Linked DNA regions of Homo sapiens. The protein of the gene in region 2 purifies or fractionates together with the protein of the main gene of each other region. This does not show direct contact. Each region holds a gene or a part of one and is shown on either strand. Other genes may lie near its edges.

Region 1 (3,811 bases), on a different chromosome or scaffold from region 2:
GCCTGTAATCCCAGCACTTTGCGAAGCCAAGGCAGGCGGATCACTCGAGGTCAGGAGTTCAAGACCAGCCTGGCCAACATGGCAAAACCCCGTCTCTACCAAAAATAGAAAAATTAGCCAGGTGTGGTGGCACACGCCTGTAATCCCAGCTACTTGGGAGGCTGAGCCCAGAGAATAGCTTGTACCCGGGAGGCAGAGGTTGCAGTGAGCCAAGATCGCTCCACTGCACTCCAGCCTCGGCCACACAGCAAGACTCCATCTCAAAAAAAAAAAGTAAAAAAAAATTAGAGTGTGAGAAGTCCAGAGGGAGGCTACCCTTTGAGGAGAAGGGAAGAGGTACTGATTGGGGACATGAGGAAGCTTCTAGGATGCTATGTGTGTTCTATTTTTTTGACTTGGATAGTAGTTACATGAATGGTCACTTTGTGATAATCTGTCAAGCTTATGATTTATACATTTTTCTCCACGAGTGTCATACTTTTTTTTTTTAAATAGAGACAAGATCTTGCTAAGATGCCCAGGCTAGTGCAAACTCCTGAGCTCAAGAGATCCTCCCATCTCAGTTTCCCAAAGTGCTGGAATTACAGACGTGAGCCACTGTACCTGGCCTTAAAATGTGTTTTAATGTTTATTTTATTATGACAATAAATATAACAATTTGTCAAAATCTGTGGAATACAGAGCAATAAAGGTAAAAGTATAACTTAAATTTACCAGCAAACAAAGGGGTAAATATAAAGGAGCCAAGCATTCCAACTCAAGAAGTTGAGAAAAGAGCTAGAGAAGAAACCCAAGGACCAATTTAAAAAAAAACAGCTGGGGGCGGTGGCTCACACCTGTAATCCCCGAACACTTTGGGAGATCAAGGCAGGAAAATTACTTGAGCCCAGCAGCTTGAGGGTGCAGTGAGCTATGAGCACACCACCGCACTCCAGTCTGGGTAACAAAGCAAGACCCTGTCTCAAAACCTAAATAAAATAAAAATAAAGATAAACAATAAAGAGCAGATATTAATGGTTTCACTGCAGCATTATTTGTAGTGGTAATGGTGTTGGAGGCAACGCAGGTAGCCATTACCGGAAAAAGAAACAGGTAAAATGTGGAAGATGTACATTAGAAGTGGGTCATGGGGTAAAAGTAAAGGAAATCAATTTTAAAAATGGGTAGGTAGATAGATAAGTACAGTAGTTCTCTCAGGCTCTGAGATTCTATGTTCTAGTTTCATCTGTTTGTTTTGTTTTGTTTTGTTTTTTGGTATGGAGTCTTGCTCTGTCGCCCAGGCTGGAGTGCAGTGGCACAATCTCGGCTCACTGCAATCTCTGTCTCCCGGGTTCAAGTGATTCTCCTGCCTCAGCCTCCCAAGTAGCTGAGATTACAGGTATGTGCCACCATCCCCAGCTAATTTTTAGTAGAGACGGGGTTTCACCATGTTGGCCAGTCTGGTCTCAAACTCCTGACCTCAGGTGATCCACCCACCTCAACCTCCCAAAGTGTTGGGATTACAGGCGTGAGCCACTGCACCCGGCCCCAGTTTCATCTTTTTTAATCGTTTCCCTAACTTTGCATTTCCATTTGCTGATATAATTTTTTGTAAACATTCTGCTGGCTCACATGTATCTTCGAGGTTTCAGATTCTAATTAGATGTTAAGCCTGTATTTTAAATGTGTTATTTCAGAGATTCTTTTATGACACATATTTGGATATGTACTTGCAACTGCATTGCTTAAGCATGTTGTAAAACTTTTACATAATTCTTGGAAGTCATTACATTTAATTTTAACTGTTAGGTTATATCTATCATATAAAACCTAGCTAGCAATTTCTTATTGATAATAACTACTGGGTGGGTCCAGGTTTCTGACTTCCTTAAGAGTAGAACAGAATGTTGTCTCTTGCTTATGAAAAAAAAATAGTAATGGTAGACAGAAAATGTTCTTGAGAACACCTTTTAGAGATCTTTTCATCTTCATTCACGTGATATGGAGGAAAGAGAGGTTCTGAGGCATCCGATACTCAACATGAATTATTTCAGCAAAAAGAAAAAGCAAAGTCACAAATGTAGGACCCTATCCAAAAACTAAAAGAAGCTATAAGGACACTTTACCTACAGAGGATATAAAGGTAAAGATTAACTCAAAGGAGGGGCTTTTGATAACAAACTGGCCTAAAGACCCAAACTTAAGTGCTAAGTTAGAATTATAATCTTTTAAAGGTTGCTAGTCATTGGAAATTATTTAAATGAAAGTACCACTCAAAATATGGGGATAAGAACAAAGTTTTATCAAGCTGTGATTGTAATGATTAAAAATAAGCGAGAAAGTTAAGTGTCTCTTAATTGTTGATAACAGTTATGTACTTGGGAGTTTTATGCTTGCTTTGTTTTATTGTTTAATAATTATAAATGTACACATAAGATGAATGAAAAAAATCTTATATGTGCTAAGTCTCAGATCCTAGATGAACTATGAGACTGTGTGAATCAACTTATCTCCTATGAGCTGAGCTCAGCATACCTACATTTCACATTAATTTCCTTTGAATGGTGAATCTTTGGCTTTTTAGTTATGTGACAGCACAGAACTAGCAAGAGATAAGACATGTCTATGAAACCCACTCACCAGGAAGGACATTCAGCTCTAAAGACAAGAGAGAGTTCAGTTAGTGAAGATGAGATCACCCCCACTCGTAACTGTCTCACCTGAAGCAGCTCCAGGGTGGGAGCCTGGCTCTTCTCCCCCACCTCTAAGATGAGCTTCTTCAATGAAGCGATAGTTTGATTGAGTTTTAACGTGTTCTCATTCAGCTTCTTCTTCGTCTCTTCTTCTTCTTTGTTCAATCTCTGAAGAAACAGGTCCTCTTCTTCAACCAGGAAGTTGTGCAGCTTTGAAAACTCCGTGCTGATTCTCATTCGCTGACTCTTTATCTTATCCTAAGGCCACATGAGATTTGCTCACTCCTTTTTCTGCCTGACCCCAGCTACTAAATTCCTTACACAATTCCCCAGTAATCCACAGTCAATCCTAATCAAACCCTCTTGAAAAGCTCCTGCCCACCCCCACTAAAATTTCCATTACTCCTTTATTTATACCTACTTGATAGCTCTGTCTAGTCATTATAGTATTCATTCATTCTTCCTAACATTTCAGTCTCTACTACTGACAAGTTTTAAACTAAAACAAACTTTCACATCTACTACTTAGTTTAGCCTTCAGAACTCGTTTAGTTTTACCAAATCTTTAGGAGTGTGAGGGTGTGTGTGTGTGTGTGTGTGTGTGCGTGTGTGTGTGCATCCATTCATCTGTTTCTTTCCACAATGCCATGGGCCCAAACCGACTCTAACCTAGGGAGTATATTTAGGAAAAAGTAGGAAGGAGAGGGGTGCTACCTTAAAGTAGAGACATGGGGATGAAGTATGCGGAACTCATTATCACCCAAAGCCACTAGCAGCAGGGACAGGTACTTCCTCTCCTATCCCCGTATCTACAAGGGGCCTGACAACTGAACTGACACCCAGAAAGCTCTTCTTTCAGTCACATGATATGGAGGAAACAGAGGTTCTGAGGCATCCAAGACTCTACGTGAACTGCAAAACCCCATGACCAAAAGGACCTCAGAAGCAAGAAATGTCCCAGACCAAAAGGACCTCAGGAGCAAGAAATATCCAACCACTTCTGCCATTACCTTCCACTGTGTGGCGTTCTTCACTTCTACATCCTGTAAATGCATGACTTTCTTCATCTTGGCCACGAGATTACGCTGAGACTTAAGAAGTTTCTCCTGCCAGCAGAAACACACACAGGTAAGAAAACA
Region 2 (4,459 bases):
GAGTCAGACTCCTGGCTTTGCAGATACTGCGTTAGCTTCCTTTCTTATCTGCAAACAAGATGTGGCTACCTATTCCCCTGGCTTCTTCGCGGTAAGAAGATTGCATCTAAAACAAGACATAAAGAGAGAGAAAAAAAAGGCAGAAACCTATGAAATGCTTTCATGGCTGTTATCACCACCGTGAAATCTAGAGTGAGGGGGCAGCTTCCCCTCCTGAGATCTTGTACATCTTCGAGGGAGATTGTGATTCAGGTTCTTGGAGTCTGCTGAGTTAGGAGAGCAACTTCTTAGATTAATGGAGGAACATTTGACTTCGGTTTTACTGAGCCGTTTAGTTGCAGTTTCTGCTTGTCGAATTTACTGGAAACACAGAGGTTAAAAAAAAAACAGCCTAATTTAGGGCCTCAGGGGTTGAAAGGATCCAAGTCTCCTGGACTTATTTATCAAACAGATGATTTGACAGAAAAAAAAAAAGTTCTCAGTACTAACATGACTCAAGAAAGAAAGAGGAAAAAAGTCCACACAGTTCAAATTCACTCTGCTGATCTGGGAAGACAAATTTTAGAGGATTTTTTTTTTTTTTATAGTAGTAGTGGTATTCTTTTTATTCTTTATTCTTTTATTTTTTTAATTGGGGGGTTTTCCTGTGAGGACTGGAGATTCTAAAAGACAAATCCTAAAAGAGCTGTAAGACAAGATGTTAGTTTTTAAACCCTGCAGAAAAGTCTCAGGCATTTATATGTAAAACCCAAGAGCTTGAACACACACAACCACACCCCTAAACTGTGAGTTGCCTGGAAAGGGGAGAGGGAGGGAAGCAGGACCCGGGAGGTGGAGGAGTGTCTGACGCTGAGACTTTTCTCAGTGCCTGCAGTAATTCCTTAGCAACACAGGGCCCCTGTCACGCAAATCTACGTTCCCCAGAAACCCTGCTGACCAGTTCGCCTGCTAACTGCGCCTGCAAAAAGCCTCAGCACTTTCCAGCCTTAATTAAGCACACAATATGCTAATGGTTTCTGAGTTATTCATGATCTGTGCCCATCTAGAGAAAGTTCAGATTGTGAAGGTATTCTAGTTTGGCAATAAAGACGTTTAGTATAAGATGATTTTTCCCTTGACACAGTTTACAATAAAAGTCCTCATAAAATTCCTACTTCCTAACCAAACAGAAAATTATGCCAGCTTTTGGAATTGGAGAGATGTGCAAATACAGTCAAAATTAGTTACACTGAATTATTTCAGAAATCAGCAATAAAATCACGAGGAAATTCTCTTCCTAAACATTAACATAATACTCTTGGCTGCCTCCATATACAGAAACAAAATGTGAGTGTTTCCTGGCAAGTGTGAATGAAAATGGCCAGCATAACAGCATATGCTTCTGCCTAACAAAGAATGACTATTACTTGTGTTATTTCTCATTTAAAATATTTTTTTAGGCCGGGCACAGTGGCTCATGCCTGTAATCTCAGCACTTTGGGAGGCCAAGGAGGGTGCATCACCTGAGGTCAGGAGTTCAAGACCAGCCTGGCCAACATGGTGAAACCCTGTCTCTACAAAAATTAGCCGGGCGTGGCGGCGGGCGCCTGTAATCCCAGCTACTCGGGAGGCTGAGGCAAGAGAATCGCTTGAACCCGGGAGGTGGAGGTTGCAGTGAGCCGAGATCGCGCCATTGCGCTCCAGCCTGGGCGACAAGAGTGAAACCCCCTCTCAAAAAAAATTTAAAAATTATATATACATATATACATATGTGTGCCAAAATAGTACATTCTCCCTCAGGGCACATTTCTGACTATGTTTTTGCTCTCAAAAAGCCCCGGATTATGCGTTTCAGGCGTATGGAAGGAAGGACCGACACTCTGCTTCAAAACCTCTACATGCCTCAACGTTCCCATTTGCTTTACACGACAAAGTCCTCATGGGCCGTATGCCAGACGTCCTGCACACAAACCTCAATCCGTCGCAGAGAGCTGGGGGCGTCAGCTGGAAGTGGATTACACTCTCCTTGGCACAAACGACTCAGGCCACAGGTATGTAAAGCAACTGCAAGAGCCTTTCTGTCCCTGTTTTTTATCAAGAGCAGCCTTTAATCTTGTCTTCCCAAAAGTGAAATAGACAAGCATCGCAACGTTTCTCTCTTACAGGCAGCCGGTGGCCTTCCCCTGTTAACTATGGAGACAATCCCTAGGCGTCCTTCTCCGCCCAGAGCTAGAAAAATTTCAGAGTCCTGATCATGCACTATCGCTCGAAAACAACTTCCGTGAAAATAACTTTTTTTTTCTCCTAGTATTCTTTCTTAGACCAAAAGCCCAGCCTTCGTGTTCTGCTATGACCTCTTTAGTCATGGGATAGAGTCCGGGTTACAAACTTGAATTTAGTTCCAGCCATTCACAAGTCTCTGGGCTCCGCCAACCCACACTCCCACTCCTTTCCTCCTGGTTCTCTAAGTCAAGGGAGCCTAAAAGGCTTATAAATTATCAAAGCACCCAGCATTTGGGAGGATCGGGTCCTCCAGCCTCCGAGCTGCACTCACCGGGTCTCGGGCAGGGAGAGTGCGGCCGTCCAGGCGGCGTCGGCAGCGGGAGGCGCAGTGACAGCGGGTCCCCGCTTCCCCGCGCACTGCCCAGACCAGCACTGCCCTGGCGCTGCGGATACGGGAAGGAGGAGGAAGGGGGAGGAGTCGCGAGTCTGCACCCCGTGAGACCCTTGCGCAAGGTGCTTTCCAGCTGTGCCTGGTGCAGCCGGCGACCCGCGAGCGCAGCTGTGGGCACGCCCCCACCTCTTCCCACGCCAGAGTTTTCCCCTCTGCTGGGGGCACCCTCCATTTCTGCATGGGAATCCCCGGGGCACCCAGGCGGGACGCGACCCGAAAGACACGCCGGAGACCCCCAACCCTGGATTACCTGCGGCCTTGGCGCTCCCACGCCGGCCGAGCGCTCCAGCCGCGGCCCCCCGAAGGTTCGGTGCGATGCTGGCTGCAGGCCTGTGGGAGCCGAGCACGCCGGGCCACTGGGATCCGGCGGCGGCAGCGGCAGAAGCAGGAACCAGGGCGCCGGACCCCAGAGCGTGGCGCGCAGTCCAGAGCGGAGCGGACGAGTGAGACCCGCGTCGCCCGCACGCTCAGACCGCCCTGCTCTGCCCCTGACTCACGGCGTCTGAGCCTGCCCAGGGGCGGCGCAGCGGACGCCAGCCACCGCCTCCCCGACTTTTCCATTTCCCCTTTCTCTCCGTAAACAGAAAGAGACTGCCCGGTTGCAGGGTAAGCCAGAGCCCCCGCGCTGGGAAATTCCGCGTCTCCCCCCCACCCGCCACCCCGCCGCCCCTCATTTGCCCTCTGGGCGCCCGGGCGGAGCTGGAGGCGGGACTAGGGAGGAGCAGAGCGGCGCGCAGGGAGGAGCGCGGGACGTGAGCTGCGGCCCGAATCGAGAGCCTGGGACGGGGACGAGTTTTCCCCCGGGCCTGGTGACCCAAGGCGTCTTAGTGGCGGAGTTGCAAGAGGTGGTTGTGCCCTTCCCGGTCCCCAGGGAAGGTCGTATATCTTAGTGTACTCGCGCCCTCGGCGCTTCTCTGGAGTCCCAGGGTCCGGCGGGAGGGCACGCTCCCGGGGGGCGGCGGGGAGGGCAGTCACCAGACCTTTTTCCGCGCGCCCCACGCTCTGGGGTGGGGACAGAGGCGCCGTGTGCCCTCCCAGCAGTGCTGCGGGAAGCCGGGGAAGCTTCGGGGCTTCTTGGAACCGCGACTGTGGGTCCGATTGCTAGTAGCACGGCCCCGCCTCGCCCAGATTTCGCTTCAAATTCACACACAAAGAGGGCAGTGACCCGTGGTGCGCACGCACACATTCCAACTTAGAGATTTCCAAGAGGCTGCGGCAGGGTGGGCCCGGAACCTGGTTGTTGGGCGCTCGGCTGGGAGCCTGTGCACTCCGCCAGCAGAACCTGGTTTTCTTCTCTGCAGTCTTTATTAAAATTGGTTATTTTGCGGCACCGCCTCATTAGGAAGCGTACTTGTACTATCTCCCCGCTCCCGCCTACCGCTAACCCTCAGTCCTAGCTGCTCATCTGGGGTTTTCCTTCTAGAGTGTCAAGCTTTTACTCCAGGTGTAACCGGAAGAGAGTTCTAGAGAAAAGCGCCACTCTCCCGAAATCCACTCTGCGGGACATTCCCAATGCCCCGCCACCCCCTCCCCCTACATTTCCCACGTATCAAGCACCCACTAGGAACCAGGCATTCGGCTAGAGCGCGGAGAGCTAGGAGCCATGTAAGGTCGACATCCTCTCTCTCTCTCTCTCTCTCTCTCTCTCTCCCCCCCCACCTACGGCCCAGGAGGTGGGGTGTCCCAGGCACAACCCAGATTCAAACGCGGTCACACTCCAAGTCCACGCCCTATTCTTCCCAGTGCCCAGGTCCGTGCTCCCTCTGCAGTTTCTAGATTGCCTCCGCGCGGTTGCGCACGCCTGTA

What was found.
Region 1: the proteins of MAP3K8 (region 2) and TRIM4 purify together in Homo sapiens (affinity purification with western blotting, with the first as the bait; one study listed by BioGRID). This does not show direct contact.

Annotation. Positions count from the first base shown.
Region 1 is NC_000007.14:99,905,883-99,909,693, forward strand, and holds part of TRIM4 (E3 ubiquitin-protein ligase TRIM4), read right to left. Parts: intron 3,779-3,811; coding exon 3,683-3,778; intron 2,931-3,682; coding exon 2,700-2,930; intron 1-2,699. UniProt on the Homo sapiens protein: E3 ubiquitin-protein ligase. Mediates 'Lys-63'-linked polyubiquitination of the innate immune receptor RIGI, this linkage doesn't lead to proteasomal degradation but seems to enhance IFN induction.
Region 2 is NC_000010.11:30,432,823-30,437,281, reverse strand, and holds the start of MAP3K8 (mitogen-activated protein kinase kinase kinase 8), read right to left. Parts: upstream 3,099-4,459; 5' UTR 2,904-3,098; intron 2,646-2,903; exon of another isoform or gene 2,534-2,645; intron 710-2,533; exon of another isoform or gene 148-709; intron 107-147; 5' UTR 1-106.